Linked DNA regions of Homo sapiens: region 1 is linked to region 2. Evidence: fine-mapped QTL for protein levels in blood plasma. A gene starts in region 2. The other region holds a variant in brackets. All regions are shown on one strand. Distances are between the middles of the regions.

The links. PIP is the posterior inclusion probability: the model's chance that the variant is causal. The UK Biobank Pharma Proteomics Project read protein levels with antibody pairs (Olink). The fine-mapping took linkage between variants from a reference panel, not from the people measured, so its PIPs are less certain.
Region 1: its variant is fine-mapped to the plasma level of the PRAP1 protein (UK Biobank, PIP above 0.99).

The regions. Positions count from the first base shown.
Region 1 is chr10:133,357,947-133,362,721 of GRCh38, forward strand. It overlaps FUOM (fucose mutarotase), which reads right to left and starts at 73. Exons shown (of 6, transcript NM_001098483.3): 1 at 1-73. The coding sequence starts at 61. It overlaps ECHS1 (enoyl-CoA hydratase, short chain 1), which reads right to left. Exons shown (of 8, transcript NM_004092.4): 8 at 4,539-4,775. RefSeq lists silencers at 1-171, 222-301, 1,334-1,496. The variant T/C (reference allele first, on the strand shown) is at 4,394.
Region 2 is chr10:133,340,981-133,350,499 of GRCh38, forward strand. It overlaps PRAP1 (proline rich acidic protein 1), which reads left to right and starts at 6,393. Exons shown (of 5, transcript NM_145202.5): 1 at 6,393-6,445; 2 at 9,115-9,181. The coding sequence starts at 6,438. It overlaps ZNF511-PRAP1 (ZNF511-PRAP1 readthrough), which reads left to right. Exons shown (of 9, transcript NM_001396060.1): 6 at 9,115-9,181. It also overlaps the pseudogene BANF1P2. RefSeq lists enhancers at 5,759-6,418, 6,419-7,078, 7,079-7,738.

The DNA.
Region 1 (4,775 bases), 15 kb after region 2:
GCGCCAGCGCGTAGAGCAGCTCGGGGGACAGCAGTGCGGGGACACCCTTCAGCGCCACCATGGCCCGGCAGACGGGGCGGGCGGGGCCTAGGGGCGGGGCTTGGGGGCCGGGGCGGGGCCTTACGGGGAGGGCGGGGCTTGGGGGCAGAGGCGGGGGCCTTACGGGGAGGGCGGGGCTTAGGGGCAGAGGCGGGGCTTTACGGGGAGGGCGGGGCTTTATTGGAGGGCGGGGCTTTAGGGTCCCGGGCTTGGGGCTTGGGGACGGGCCGGGCCTAGGGTTCGGCGGGCTGGGGTCCGCTTGCGGCTCAAGGAAGGGCGGGGAGCCCCAGGAACTGGGGACGTGCGGGCTGAGTCGTGGCGTGGGGGCAACACCCAGCCAGCCCACGGGCTCCTCGCCAGGTCCGAGACTCGGGTGCCCTTGCGCTGTGGCCGGGGGCTCCCCAGTGTCCCTACCCGAGCCTCCCACCCCGAGCTCCCTCAGGCCGAAGGGGTTCAACCGCCGCGGCCTCCCCTCATGAGGGTCTCTGCCCTCTGACCACTTCGTGCTGCCCTTAGGCCTGGCAGAATGCCCGGAGCGCACCGGGTCCCTGGGGTCACCATGGTGGGTAGCTGGACCCAGGCCTTCAGCCCACGCTCCTGAGGGACCGGGAGCAAGGGACACGGGAGCCAGGACTTCGGACCCCCTTGGGGGGAGTCCAGGAGGGCAGCCAGGCCCAGCTTCCAGGCTCAGCTGCGAAGTGCCAGGACACCTAAGGGTCCTCCATCATCCCCCGGTGTCAGCGGCCTGCAACCCCCTGCCCAGGATGGCGGCATCCTGACCTTTGGCTGAGCTCAGGCTGGCCAGGCCCTCCCTCCGCGGAACCACCTTCTTCCACATGATTCCCAGCTGGACACCAGCTGTGGGGCTAGCACTGCGGCCCTGGCCCTCAGCCCTGAGGTGACACAAATGCTCTGAGGCCTGGCGGCTCCTAAAAAGTTCTGAAAATCAATCTGTATGTGAAAAATGACAAAGCCGCGTCAGAAAACCAGGAGGAAACAGACGTCTCCATGTTGAACTGCTTGGCCCTAGGAGCCTGTCCCCATGGGAAGTGGCCTGGGCTGCGTCGGAAAAGCCTGGTGGGGCCACCCAGGCTGGCACCCAGCAGCACCTGAACAGCTGGCCCTGGGCCGGCCACTCGGGCAGAGAGAAGACCGGGGCTGCCCAGGGCCTGCCAATGAGGGGTGGCTTTGCACCGAGGCCACCGGGTTTCAGAGCTGTACCTGGGCAGTTTCTACTCCAACTTGTAAGTGGAGAGTCACCGTTTACCCAAATATACAAGGGCAAGAGGATTTTATAGAGATGGGCAAGAAAGTTTTCAGCTTCAAAACCAAATCAGGCCGGGCGCGGTGGCTCACACCTGTGATCCCAGCACTTTGGGAGGCCGAGGCGGGCGGATCACTTGAGGTCAGGGGTTGGAGACCAGCCTGGCCAACATGGTGAAACCCCGTCTCTTCAAAATATACAAAAATTAGCCAGGCATGGTGACTGGTGCCTGTAATCCCAGCTACTTGGGAGGCTGAGGCACGAGAATTGCTTGAACCCGGGAAGCGGAGGGTGCAGTGAGCCGAGATCACTCCACTGCTCTCCAGCCTGGGTGACAGAAAGTGACTCCGTCTCAAAAAAAAAAACAAAACCAACAAAGAAAAAACACCTAATCAAACCCCAAACAATAATGGGGCCAGAGGTCAACTAGCTCAGGAGTGAGTGGAAGCCTCACTCTGAGTCTGGGGTTCCCCTGCCCCGGACAGTGGCACCCCTCCCTCCAGGCTCCCTGGGGCCAGCATGAAGACAAAGTCCATTCCCCAGCCTAAGGGTTGGGTGTCTGTCCCTGCCAAGCTCTGGAACCAGATAACTAGACGCAGCCCTCTGAGATGCGGCTTCCATGCTGGGCCCTTTCTTGGCTTCCAGCCAAGTGTGGCTGACACAGGTATGAACGTGAGGCTGCAGCCAGCCCTACGGATCTCTGAGGTTCCATTGCTTGAAATCAGATTATGGAGGCTGACCCCAGTGCACATGAAAAATTAAACGGAGTGGATTTTCTCAATGTTCAGGCTTCCTCCCTTGCATACTTGAACATTTGGTGCCTATCTATCTCTGCATATTTACTCCAGGCTCCAGGGCCAGTGGTTCATGACCCACGCAGACTCCACGTGCTCCACTCCAGTAAGTGAGCAGGTTCCAGATTCCCTACCCCAAGGGAAGAGCCTGTTATGCCCTGTTGGACCTGAATCAAACTCCCTTTGTACCTGTTTCAGTATTTGTCAAACAGTCCCAGATCCCAAGGCTTATCTGAGGCTTATCTGAAAAGAACATCTCCCGCCTGTTTTAAGGCCAACTGCATGAGAACTCCCACCTGCCCTGGCAGAAGCGAGATAAACCTGCTCCACCCTGAAGCCGGCTCTGAACTAGTGGACTCCAATCACAGCACACAGGAGGACAGACGGGGTGGGTGGGAGTGCAGAGCCAATGCCTCCGAGGCAAGCGGTCGCAGAGCATGCGTGTGTCCCCTTTGCGTGTACATGTAACCGGACACACGGGCGTGGCACCTGCAGCGTTCAGGGAACCAGAGCTCGGCAAAGATCACTGTTCTTCTTTCTTGATGCAGGTGAACCTGTCCTTGGTATTCAGCCCAAGTCCTCAGCGGTGGGGGCTCACACACTCTGCCCACCCAACCCAAGGCCATGACCACAATCTAGACCACCTACGCACACTGAGCTGCGGGGCCAAGTGGAGGAGACACCGGCAAACGCTCTCTGGCGTCTGCACTGAGCTGGGGGCAGGTGGGCTTCCCTGGGGGAAATACCTAGAACCAAGGGCATGATGACATGTCCATAGTATGAAACGTCAGGGCCACTAAAAAGAATGTTATAGGACTGTCATTTAGTGAGAAAATCAAATGGTGAAACATGCCACAACAGGCACAAACCTTCTGGACAGTATGTGCCTTAGCTTGGGCTGCTGTGATGCAGTGGCATGGTCTGGGTGGCTGATAAACACTGACTTTCCACAGTTCTGGAGGCCAAGGCTCCAGGCAGGTTCGGTGTGTGATGAGGCCCACCCTGGTTTACAGACAGCACCTTCCCACAGAGCACTCACATTGTGGGAGGGGTGAAAGAGTGCCCTCAGGGCTCTCCTAAGGGCAGTAATCCCACTGGAGGAGCTCCGCCCCCTCATAGGGCACTAATCCCACTGGAGGAGCTCCGCCCTCTCATAGGGCACTAATCCCACTCAAAGAGCTCCATCTTCTCATAGGGCAGTAATCCCACTGGAGGAGCTCCGCCCTCTCATAGGGCACTAATCTCACTGGAAGAGCTCCATCCTCTCATAGGGCACTAATCCCACTGGAAGAGCTCTGCCTTCTCTTAGGGCATTAATCCCACTGAAGGAGCTCCGCCCTCTCATAGGGCACTAATCCCACTCAAAGAGCTCCGCCCTCTCACAGGGCACTAATCCCAAAGAGCTCTGCCCCCTCATAGGGCACTAATCCCACTTGAAGAGCTCTGCCCTCATAGGGCACTAATCCCACTGGAGGAGCTCCGCCCCCTCATAGGGCACTAATCCCACTGGAGGAGCTCCACCCTCTCTCTCCTAGGACACTAAACCCACTCGAAGAGCTCTGCCCTTGTGACTAGTCATTGCCCAAAGTCCCCCCTCCTAATGCAGTCACGGTAGGGGTTAGGATTTCAACCCAGGGATTTGGGGTGGGGCTGAGTGAAATGAGCCTGACCCAAAGGGATAAATGGAGGTCCCTCCATAGAGACAGGAAGTAGAAGCGTGGGTGCCAGGAGCTGGAGGGAAGCAGAAAAGGGGTTGTTGTTTAACGGGGACAGTTTCCGTTTGGGAAAATGAAAGCTTTCTTGGATAGTCATGGCTGCACAACGAGAACGTACTTAATGCCGCTGAAATGTGCATTTGAAATGGTTCAGACCAGCCTGGGCAACACGGGGAAACCCCGTCTCTACAAAAGGTAAATTTAAACAGTCAGCTGGGTGTGGGAGTGCGCCCCTGTGGTCCCAGCTACTTGGGAGGGGGGGAGGATCACTTGAGCCCAGGAGATTCAAGCTGCAGTGAGCTGTGACTGAGCCACGCACTCCAGCCCGTCTCTAAAACACAGTGGTTAAGATGATCAAGTTGACGTCGTGTGTTCCCACAGTAGAGAAGAATGCAGTAAACTGAACAGAGAGCTCCTTATGACAGAAGTAGGAAGAAAATAGGGTGGGCTCTCGTGAGGAAAGGGCTCGACGTGAGTGGGCGTGGAAGAAAACCATAGACCATGCCTGTGCCCGTGTGCAGGGGTGTGTGGGTGCGTGCACAGAACTCTAGGAAGTCACAAGCCCAGCTGTTCACAGTGGC[T/C]ACCCTGGAAGTATGATGTGAGGCAACTGACTATACAAACTTGTTTTGTTTGAATGTTGTTCCTTACAGTGAAAAAACAAAAAAGTTTAAAAAAACAACTAACATGACAGAATGCTCATTGCAGACATGACTACAAGGCGTGGTGTAATCTGAATCGCTATCACTTTAATCAGCATCTGTATGAAGGCAGCAGACAGCGTTTCCCTCAGAGCAGCCCCATTCTTCAGCGGCAGGGACACAAGGACCCGCAGGCCCCGCTTTCCGTCCGAGCACAGCATGCCCAGAGGGACCAGCGGGGGCTCCTCAGCAGAATCTTAGATTTAGAAGGTGCTCCAGTCAGGACCCTCACAGGCTGGGTGACGAAGGCTGTCATGCCGTGAGA
Region 2 (9,519 bases):
GCCTAGCTAATTTTTGTATTTTTAGTAGAGACAGGGTTTCACCATATTGGCCAGGCTGGTCTCAAACTCCTGACCTCAGGTGATCCGCCTGCCTTGGCCTCCCAAAGTGCTGTGATTACAGGCGTGAGCCACCACGCCCGGCCATTATTGCTGTTAACCCATGGATTCTCCAGGTTTCATCCATTCATCCGTATGAACTGTTTCCAGTTTGTCAGCTGTTTATAATGTTGTGGTGAACATTCTTATCACAACCTTGGTGGACGTGTGCTTTTCTTTCTCTTGGGTAGTTACTGAAGAGTGGAATTGCCAAATTTGATGGAAAGTTGACATTTAACTTTGAAAGAAAATGCTAAAATGTGTTTTTCCAAAGTGGCCGTACCATGTGACATTCCCACCAGCAGTATAGGAGGGTTCCAGTTTCTCCACATCCTCACCACCTCTTGATTTTTTTTTTTTTTTGAGACAGTCTCCCTCTGGCCAGGCTGGAGTACAGTGGCACGATCTTGGCTCATTGCAACCTCCACCTCCCGGGTTCAAACGATTCTCCTGCCTCAGGCACCCAAGTAGCTGGGACTATAGGCTCATGCCACCACGCCTGGCTAATTTTTGTATTTTTAGTAAAGATGGGGTTTCACCATGTTGGCCAGGATGGTCTCAACCCGCCTCGGCCTCCTAAAGTGCTGGGATGACAGGCGTGAGCCACCGTGCCCAGCAACCAACTCTTGATCCTTGATTTTGTCTTTTTTATACTAGCCATCTGTCTTAGCTGAGGCTGCCATAACAAATTGCCAGAGACTGGGCAGCTTCAACAATGGAAATTCATGTTCTCACAGCGATGGAGGCTGACGTCTGAGACGGAGCTGTCGGCAGGGTTGGAGCTGTTGGCAGGGTTGGCTCCTCCTGAGGCTGCTCCCTGGGTTTGTGGGTGGCCACACCTCCCCGTGTCCTTACATGGTCTTCCCTTTGGCGTATCTGTGTGTTCTCATCTCTTCTTATAAGGACACCAGTCCTGTTGAATTAGGGTCCACCCTAATAACCTTGCTTTACCTTACTTACATCTTTAAAAACCCATCTCCAAATATCGTCATATTCTGAGGGGTTAGGACATCAATGTATGAATTTAGAGGGGACACAGCCCATAACACCGTCCTATAGGAGTGTAGCTGTGGCTTGAGTCCACGTCGCCCTAGTGACAAGTGGTGCTGAACATCTTCTCAGGGTGGAGTCACCATTTGTAAATCATCTATGGTGAAATGTCTGTGCAAATGTTTTGAATATTTTTCAGTTGGGTTGTTTGTCTTTTTATTGTTGAGTTGTAAGAGTTCTTTTTATATTCTGGGTATAAGTCCTTTTCTTTCTTTTTTTTAGTTTTATTATTATTTTTTTGAGATGGAGTCTCACTCTGTCAACCAGGCTGGAGTGCAGTGGTGCAGTCTCATCTCACTGCAACCTCCGCCTCCCGGGTTCAAGCGATTCTCCTGCCTCAGCCTCCCTAGTAGCTGGGACTATAGGCGCCTGCCACCACACCCAGCCAATTTTTGTATTCTTAGTAGAAACGGGGTTTCGCTATTTTGGCCAGGGTGGTCTCGAACTCCTGACCGCGAGTGATCCTCCCGCCTCGGCTTCCCAAAGCGCTGGAATTACAGGCGTGAGCCACTGCACCTGGCCCTTTATTTTTAATTTTTAAAAAGTTTTAATTATTATGGGTACATAATAGGTATATATATCCATGGGGTACACGGATGCCATATGTAATGATCAAACCAGGATAATTGGGGTATCCATAACCCCAAGATTGTATCATTTCTTTGTGCTAACATTCTAATTCCACTCTTTTTTGTTAATTTAAAATATACAACAGGCTAGTCACAGTGGCTCATGCCTGTGGTCCCAGCACTTTGGGAGGCCTGAGTGGGAGGATTGCTTGAGCCCAGGAGTTCGAGACGAGCCTGGGGACCTCGTCTCATTTTACTAAAGACTAGATGTTTTAGATAATATATTGCAAACATTTTGAGTTCTGATATTTTCTCCCAAGGGTTGTTGTTGCTGTTTTGTTGAAATCTGTGGACTTTGTTTCCCCTGTAGCACGTGGCCTGGTGTCTCCGCCCAGTTTTTTAAGCCTATCTTCCTTGAGTCACACTGGGTTGTGTGGTTGGAGGCTGTGCTCAGGCCGCGGGACCCACTCTGCTGGTGCCTCAAGGGTGGGCTGGGGGCCACGCTCTGTGTGGATGCAGTTTTTAAGGTGCCCGACCTTTACTTCCCACCGGCTGTCTCCCGTCTCCTGAGTGTGAATGCACAGACTTGTGTTGGGCCAGAGGAATGGGGAGGTCAGCTGGGACTGTGTGGGAACCTGGGGAGGCTCCCTGTGCCTTTCTCATTCCAGACCTGATCACCCCATTCAAGTTCGGGCTGGCCTGCCAATCACTGCTCATAATCCCCTTGGGGACCCCAGTTCCCTGAGCCACTGGCCTTCTGCTGCCTCCCCCGTGGAGCCACTCGGCCACTGAGGGGTGGGTGGGAGTGTAGCTGCCCAACAGGCTCATTCTGCTTGCTGCCCAGAGAGAGCCGATTTATCAGGGCAGAGAGAAACTGCAACACGGAAAGTTTAATTCACGCGGAGCCGGCTGAACGGGAGGCTGGAGCTTTATCACTACTCAAATTTTAAAGGATAATTTGGTGGGTAGGGGTTGGGAAGCAGGGAGTGCTGATCGGTTGGGTTGCAGATGAAATCACAGGGAGTCGAATCTGTCCTCTTGTGCTGAGTCACTTCCTGAGTGGGGGCCACAAGACCAGGTGAGCCAGTTCATGGATCTGGGTGGCACCAGCTGTTCCACCAAGTTCAGAGTCCGAAAAATGTCTCGAGCACCAATCTTAGGATTTACAATAGTGATGTTTTCCCTAAGAATAATTGGGGAGGCTTAGAATCTTGTGGCCTCCAGCTGCCTGACTCCTTTTTTTTTTTTTTTTTTTTTTTTTGAGACGGAGTCTCGCTCTGTCACCCAGGCTGGAGTGCAATGGCGTGATCTCTGCTCACTGCAAGCTCCGCCTCCCAGGTTCAGGCCATTCTCCTGCCTCAGCCTCCCGAATAGCTGGGACTACAGGCGCCTGCAACCACGTCCGGCTAATTTTTTGTATTTTTAGTAGAGACGGGGTTTCACCATGTTAGCCAGGATGGTCTTGATCTCCTGACCTCGTGATCCGCCTGCCTCGGCCTCCCAAAGTGCTGGGATTACAGGCGTGAGCCACCGCGCCCGGTCCTGCCTGACACCTAAAACATAATTTCTTTTTTATTTTTCATGAAAGCCACTGACTTTCTTGATCTAAAAAACTTTACAAGGACAGTGACTGTTCTGCCAAAAAAGGAGCCAAATAGTATCAAATGGACTGAAAGTGAGGGTGGAGGTGAGGGACGGGGCCAGGAATCCATTCAGGAAAGCTGGTAACTGTCACCAGGGAAAGTGAAAAAGGAAGGGGGAGACATGCAAGAGTGAGAGTCCAAAAAAGTTGAAATGGTTAGGGGAGAAAACTCCCAAAAGACCCAGAGTGCGTCAGACGTGAGTATGACAATAGCAATCTTCTCCTTTGTAGAGGACAGGGGAGGAGTCCCGACTCGGCTACAAACTCTGGGTGAGGGCTGGGGATTGAGAGCTTCCTGGAGAGCATCACAAGAAGGCATCGCATGCTCTCGAAGGCATCCGAAGTCCCGGGACTGCTTGGTGTTGGCACCACGAGTCCTTTGGCCATTCCCGGAACAGGTCTTCATCTTTCCTCAGCACCAGAAACTGGCCAAGGACAACATAGGCCTTGTCAAAGCCCCTTTCCTCCAGCTTCTTGCCCAGGACTTCACCAATCCTGGCCAGGCTCCCCACTAGCTTTTCCCCCATGGGCTCTGCCCTGAAGTCTCGGTGCTTTTGGGAGGTTGGCATCTTGATCAGGCTTAATCGGCAACTTCAGTTCCCGTAACGGTTCCTCCCGCCACCCGGCCGCTCCGGCCGATACCTCAAGCCACTAGAAGTTTCCTAAACCATAATTTCTAATCTTGTGACTAATTTGTTAGTTTTACAAAGGCAGTCTGGTCCCCAGGCAAGAAGGGGGTTTGTTCAGGAAGGGGCTGTTTTCATCTTTGTTTCAACATTAAACTATAAACTAAGATCCTCCCAAAGTTGGTGTGACCTACACCCAGGAATGAACAAGGACAGGTTGGAGGTTAGAAGCAAGGTGGAGTCGGTTAGGTCAGATTCACTATCAGGTTTTCGCAAAGGTGGTTTCAGGAGCAGCCCCAGGCAAGAAGGCCAGAGGAACATCTGTTCTCACCCAAGCCCAGCGGCTTCTTCGGGTGACCCCTCCTCAATAGCTCAGACGCTGTGGGTCACGTTGGAAATTCCTGAGTTGGCCTTTCTTGAGGGCCCTCACTCCACCCCCTTGGAAGCACGGCCTCCAATTGTGTCTGAACATGCAGCTTCGGGAGAACCATACCCTGCAGGCCGGCGGTCTCAGAGCCCCCAACAGTAGCTGCCCGCTGGGGGTTGTCGAGGAAAAGAGTGAAACCCTGTAAAATACTTGGAGAGTGATTCTGAGCCAAATATGAGTGACGGAAGGCCCATGATGCCGTCCCAGGAGATCCTGAGAACATGTGTGGCCCGAGAGGGTTGGGGTGCAGCTGGTTTGATACATGTTCGGGACACGAGACATCACTCAGTACGTGGGAGATGTACATGGGTTTGGTCCAGAAAGGCGGCGGGTGTCCAGGTCATTGGTGGATTCAGTAATTTTCCAATTGACAATTGGTCAAAAGAGTTAAGTTATTATCTAAAGACCTAGAATCAATAGAAGGGAAAGTCAGGGTTAAGATAAGGTGTTGTGGAGACCAAGTATATGCAGATAGAATCAATAAAAGGGACTATTTCTTGTCAGAGTCTGTTCTATTAGTCTTAAGGTCTCTGTTTTAATGTTAATGCTGGTCAGTTTTGCCTGAATTCCAAAAGGAGGCGGGTACAATGAGGCCTGTCTGACCCCCACTTCCCATTATGGCCTGAACTAGTTTTCAGGTTAACCGTGGAATGCCCTGGGCTTAGGGAGGGTCCATCAGTCGGGTGGGGTCAGGCGGAGATTGGAATTGTGTTTTTGTTTTACAGGGTGTGCCAGGGACGGCTAAAGAAGGTGGTCAGGGCCGGGCGCAGTGGCTCATGCCTGTAATCCCAGCACTTTGGGAGCCCGAGGCAGGCGGATCACTTAGGTCAGGAGTTCGAGACCAGCCTGGGCAACATGGCGAAACCTCGTTTCTATTAAATATACAAAAATTAGCTGGGCGTGTTGGTGCACACCTGTAGTCCCATCTACTCAGGAGGCTGAGGCGGGAGAATCACTGGAACCCAGGAGGCGGAGGTTGCAGTGAGCTGAGATCGCGCCACTGCACTCCAGCCTGGGTGACAGAGTGAGACTGTCTCAAAAAAAATAAAATAAAAAAGGCAATGAGGGCACTGGGCCCCGTGGAGCGGGCCCTGGCCACACAGCGTGCAAGACTCCTCAGGCTGGTGTGCCCAGTAAGGAAGGACAGGAGGGAGCGCCTGGAAGGGGTGGGGAAGGTGGTGGCGTTGGGGGTGAGGGTTCCACGGTGGTGGAGCTGAGCTGGTCCCGCCCTGCCGCAGGTGGTGGGCAGGGGCAGGTGTGACAGGCAGGTGGGCTGGGGCTGGATGGGGGATTTGTCACGCCCACCTGAGGAAGGAAGTGCTTCAGCTGAGCTGGGGACAGCTGCCCACGACACCCTTCCAAGTTGCCTTGGTTGTGAGCACGGTTCAGCCTTCATGACAAGCAGGTTTTTTTTTTTTGGTGTTGTTTTGTTTTGTTTTGTTTTTTGACTGAGTTTCGCTCTTTGTTGCCCAGGCTGGACTGCAGTGGCGCAATCTCGGCTCACTGCAACCTCCGCCTCCCAGGTTCAAGCAATTCTCCTGCCTCAGCCTCCTGAGTAGCTGGAATGACAGGAGCCCACCACCACGCCCACTTAATTTTTTTTATTTTTAGTAGAGACGGAGTTTCACTATGTTGGCCAGGCTGGTCTCAATCCCCTGACTTCAGGCAATCCACCTGCCTCAGCCTCCCAAAGTGCTGGGATTACAGGTGTGAGCCACCGCGCCCGGTCAACAAGCATGTTTTTAAAGGCAAATTTCTTCCTCAGTCGTGTGGCAGGCCCTGAGCAGGCAGCTGGGTGTCCCCGCTCAGATCCAGGCCCGAGTGGGCTGGGCGGCTGCAGAGCCAGTCACCTGAGCTACCCAGGGTGGGATCCCTGGCCCCGACCTCTGTCCTGACACGCCCCAAGCGGCAGCAACAAAGCCCCAATTGGCCTGGGCCTGGGCAGGAGGAGCTGGGCCGGGTGCCAGATACTGGGATCAGCCACTGCAGCTCCCTGAGCACTCTCTACAGAGACGCGGACCCCAGACATGAGGAGGTAATGCCACCATCCCTGAGCCCCAATCCCCACCCCACCCAAACCTGGAGGCCTGGCCCTTAGCCAGAGGGGGCCCAGCTGTGCTGCGCTCCAGGGGGCCTGGTTCAGGGGAGTGTGCGGGTGGGAGGGAGAAGGAGGGGCCCTCTGAGGGTCTGGGGTCTGCCACCAGGCTCTACCTCCTCTGTGGCCCCGAGTGCACTTGCCTCTTGGTTCCCCTGGCCTGGTGGAGAATCACCCAGGGACCCCCACCCGGAACAAGGAAAGGGGAGGTGCCAGGCTGAAACCAGCAGGCCTGTGACTGCCCAAAAGGAAGGGGGCTGGGGGAGGGGAGGGGCTGGGGCGCAGGAGCCAGGGGCTGCCCTGAGGTGGTGTCACCCTGGGAGCTGTGATCTGGAGCTCAGGGAAGCACCCGGGCTCCCGCTGGACCCTGGAATCAGAGGCTGCCTTCCTTCTGTGGGGGTGTCTGTCTTCCCCCTCCTTGTGTGGGGGACCCCTCTCCCCGCTCCTGTGGAGGTGCCCTCCTCCTCTTCCCCCTCCTCTAAGCCAGGGCCCTCCCTGCCCCTCCTCTCCTGGTGTTTCTCCCTTGTAGAGAGGTGGCTTCTGGGTAGCTTGGGGACCCTTTGGTGCCCAGAGCCGTTTGCCTGGAGAGGGGACCCACGGGGATCCCACAGCCAGGCTGCTTGGCAGTCACCACCGACCACCTTTCTAGGGGCTACCGTGACCCGAATCCCAGGCCCCCAGGCTGTGTGTCATGGGAGGTGGGCACCAGGGGTGGCCCAGGCAGCACGGCAGTGGGATTGGGGTCCAGTGCCCAGACAAGAGCCCCTGCCCAGCATCAGAACCAGCTGGGGGTCCTGAGGAGAAGCAGGGCCCCCGAACCAGACCAGACCAGGTCCCGGCCCCGGGCTGTCCGGGGCATCCCCCCTGCCCTTTGACCTCTCACCATGGCTGAGTCACCCAGAGAACGGGCAAAGGTCCCTGTGGAGCTGCAATCCAGGCCTGCAGGGTGTCCCAGACACTGATTCTTCTGCCTCAGCAGGAGTAGCTGCGATTACAGGTGTGTGCCACCACCCCCAGCTAAGTTTTGTTTTTTTTTTTTTGAGACAGAGTGTCTCGCTCTGTCGCCCAGGCTGGAGGGACTGCAGTGGCGCCATCTTGGCTCATTGAAACCTCCACCTCCCAGGTTCAAGTGATTCTCCTGCCTCAGCCTCCCAAGTAGCTGGGATTACAGGCACCTGCCACCACGCCTGGCTAATTTTTTTTTTTTTTTTTTTGTATTTTTAGTAGAGACAAGTTTTCACCATATTGGCCAGGCTGGTTTCGAATGCCTAACCTCAAGTGATCTGTTGCCTCAGCCTCCCAAAGTGCTGGGATTACAGGCGTGAGTCACCGTGCCCAGGCAGTTTCATATTTTTAGTAGAGACGGAGTTTTGCCATGTTGGCCAGGCTGGTCTCAAACTCCTGACCTCAGGTGATCTGCCCACCTCAGCCTCCCAAAGTGCTGGGATTATGGGTGTGAACCACTGCGCCTGCCCCAGACACCCTTGACTGCAGCCCTGCTGAGCCCTGTACAGACCCAGAGCCCCGCCCCACCCCAAGACCACCCCACCCTGACAGACGCAAGCCTCCCCCGCAGGGCCCTGAAGAGACAAGTCTGCACCACATCACACACGCACGCACACACAGACACACTCCCAAACCCTCACACTCTACACACCACACACGCATGCACACAGCACACACCCACCCCCAAACCCTTACGCTCCACCCCACACACAACATACATACACATCCAACACATACATGCACACACAGCACACACACACACCCAAGCCCACACACTCCACACCACACACAACATACACACACATCCACCACACACAAACACACATAACATACACACACAGCACACGCACCCCCGAACTCACACACTCCGCACCACACACAACATACACATGCACCACACACTGAAGCACACAGTGCACACACACCCGAACACGACACCACCCACAGCATACATGCACACCCACCATGCACATGGTCCACACCCACAAAACACACATGCACAGACAACATATGCACACCCCCCACCACATACACAAACACACACATCCCGTGTCCGAACTGACCTGACACCCTGCCTGCCTGCCTAATAGTGCTGCCATTCACCCCTGAGCCCCCCAGCCGTGGCCCCGCAGCTCTGGGACACAGCAGGTGCCCTGCCTGCAGCAGCGTGCAGCCTCAGGGCTCTGTGGGCGTGGGGCTGTGGGCCCTCGCTGCTCCATACCCACCCATACCCACACCCATGTGCAAGTGTGTTCATGTGTGTCCCCACGTGGAGGGCGGCACAGAGGCATGGCAGAACCTCTGGAGTTTCCAAGCCAACCACCAGTGCCTGCCACAGTGGGGTCTGCCCAGACTGTGAGGAGCAGAGTCTGGGGCTGGGGCTGTGGGCTCTGGCCTGAGGGGGGCTGGAGGCAGGTGGGCCTGGGGCTTCTCCCTGTTCTGTGCCTGCGTGTCTTGGCCCATGTGAGCACAGTCCAGTAAAACTACCTGCGCTCCCAAGGAGGAACCCAGCCCAGGCCTCCCAGCTGCCCATCAGGGTGCTGCCTGGAGTTCAGGGCGTCCCCTTCCCCTACCTCACACTTCCCTCTCTGGCCCCCCCTCAGGCTCCTCCTGGTCACCAGCCTGGTGGTTGTGCTGCTGTGGGAGGCAGGTGCAGTCCCAGCACCCAAGGTAGGTGTGAGCCCCTCCCATCTGGGCAGCAACTCCAGTTGTCACCTTCTGCCCCTACAGCAGGGGATGTGGACAAAGGGCCCCTCTTCTGGCTTCAAACCCCAAGCTGGCTTAGGGGAGAGAGGCATGGGTACGCTCATGACTCTTGATGCCTGTGCAGGCATGAGGAGGGGGCAGGCTTCCCTTCCCTGGGGTCAGATGGACAGGCCTCAAGACACCCAGGTGGTCCTAGGTGGATGATGTGGGTCCAGATGAGCCCACATGACCCCAGGTGGACGAGGTGGGTCCAGATGAGCCCCCGTGACCCCAGGTGGAGGAGGTGGGCCCGGATGACACCC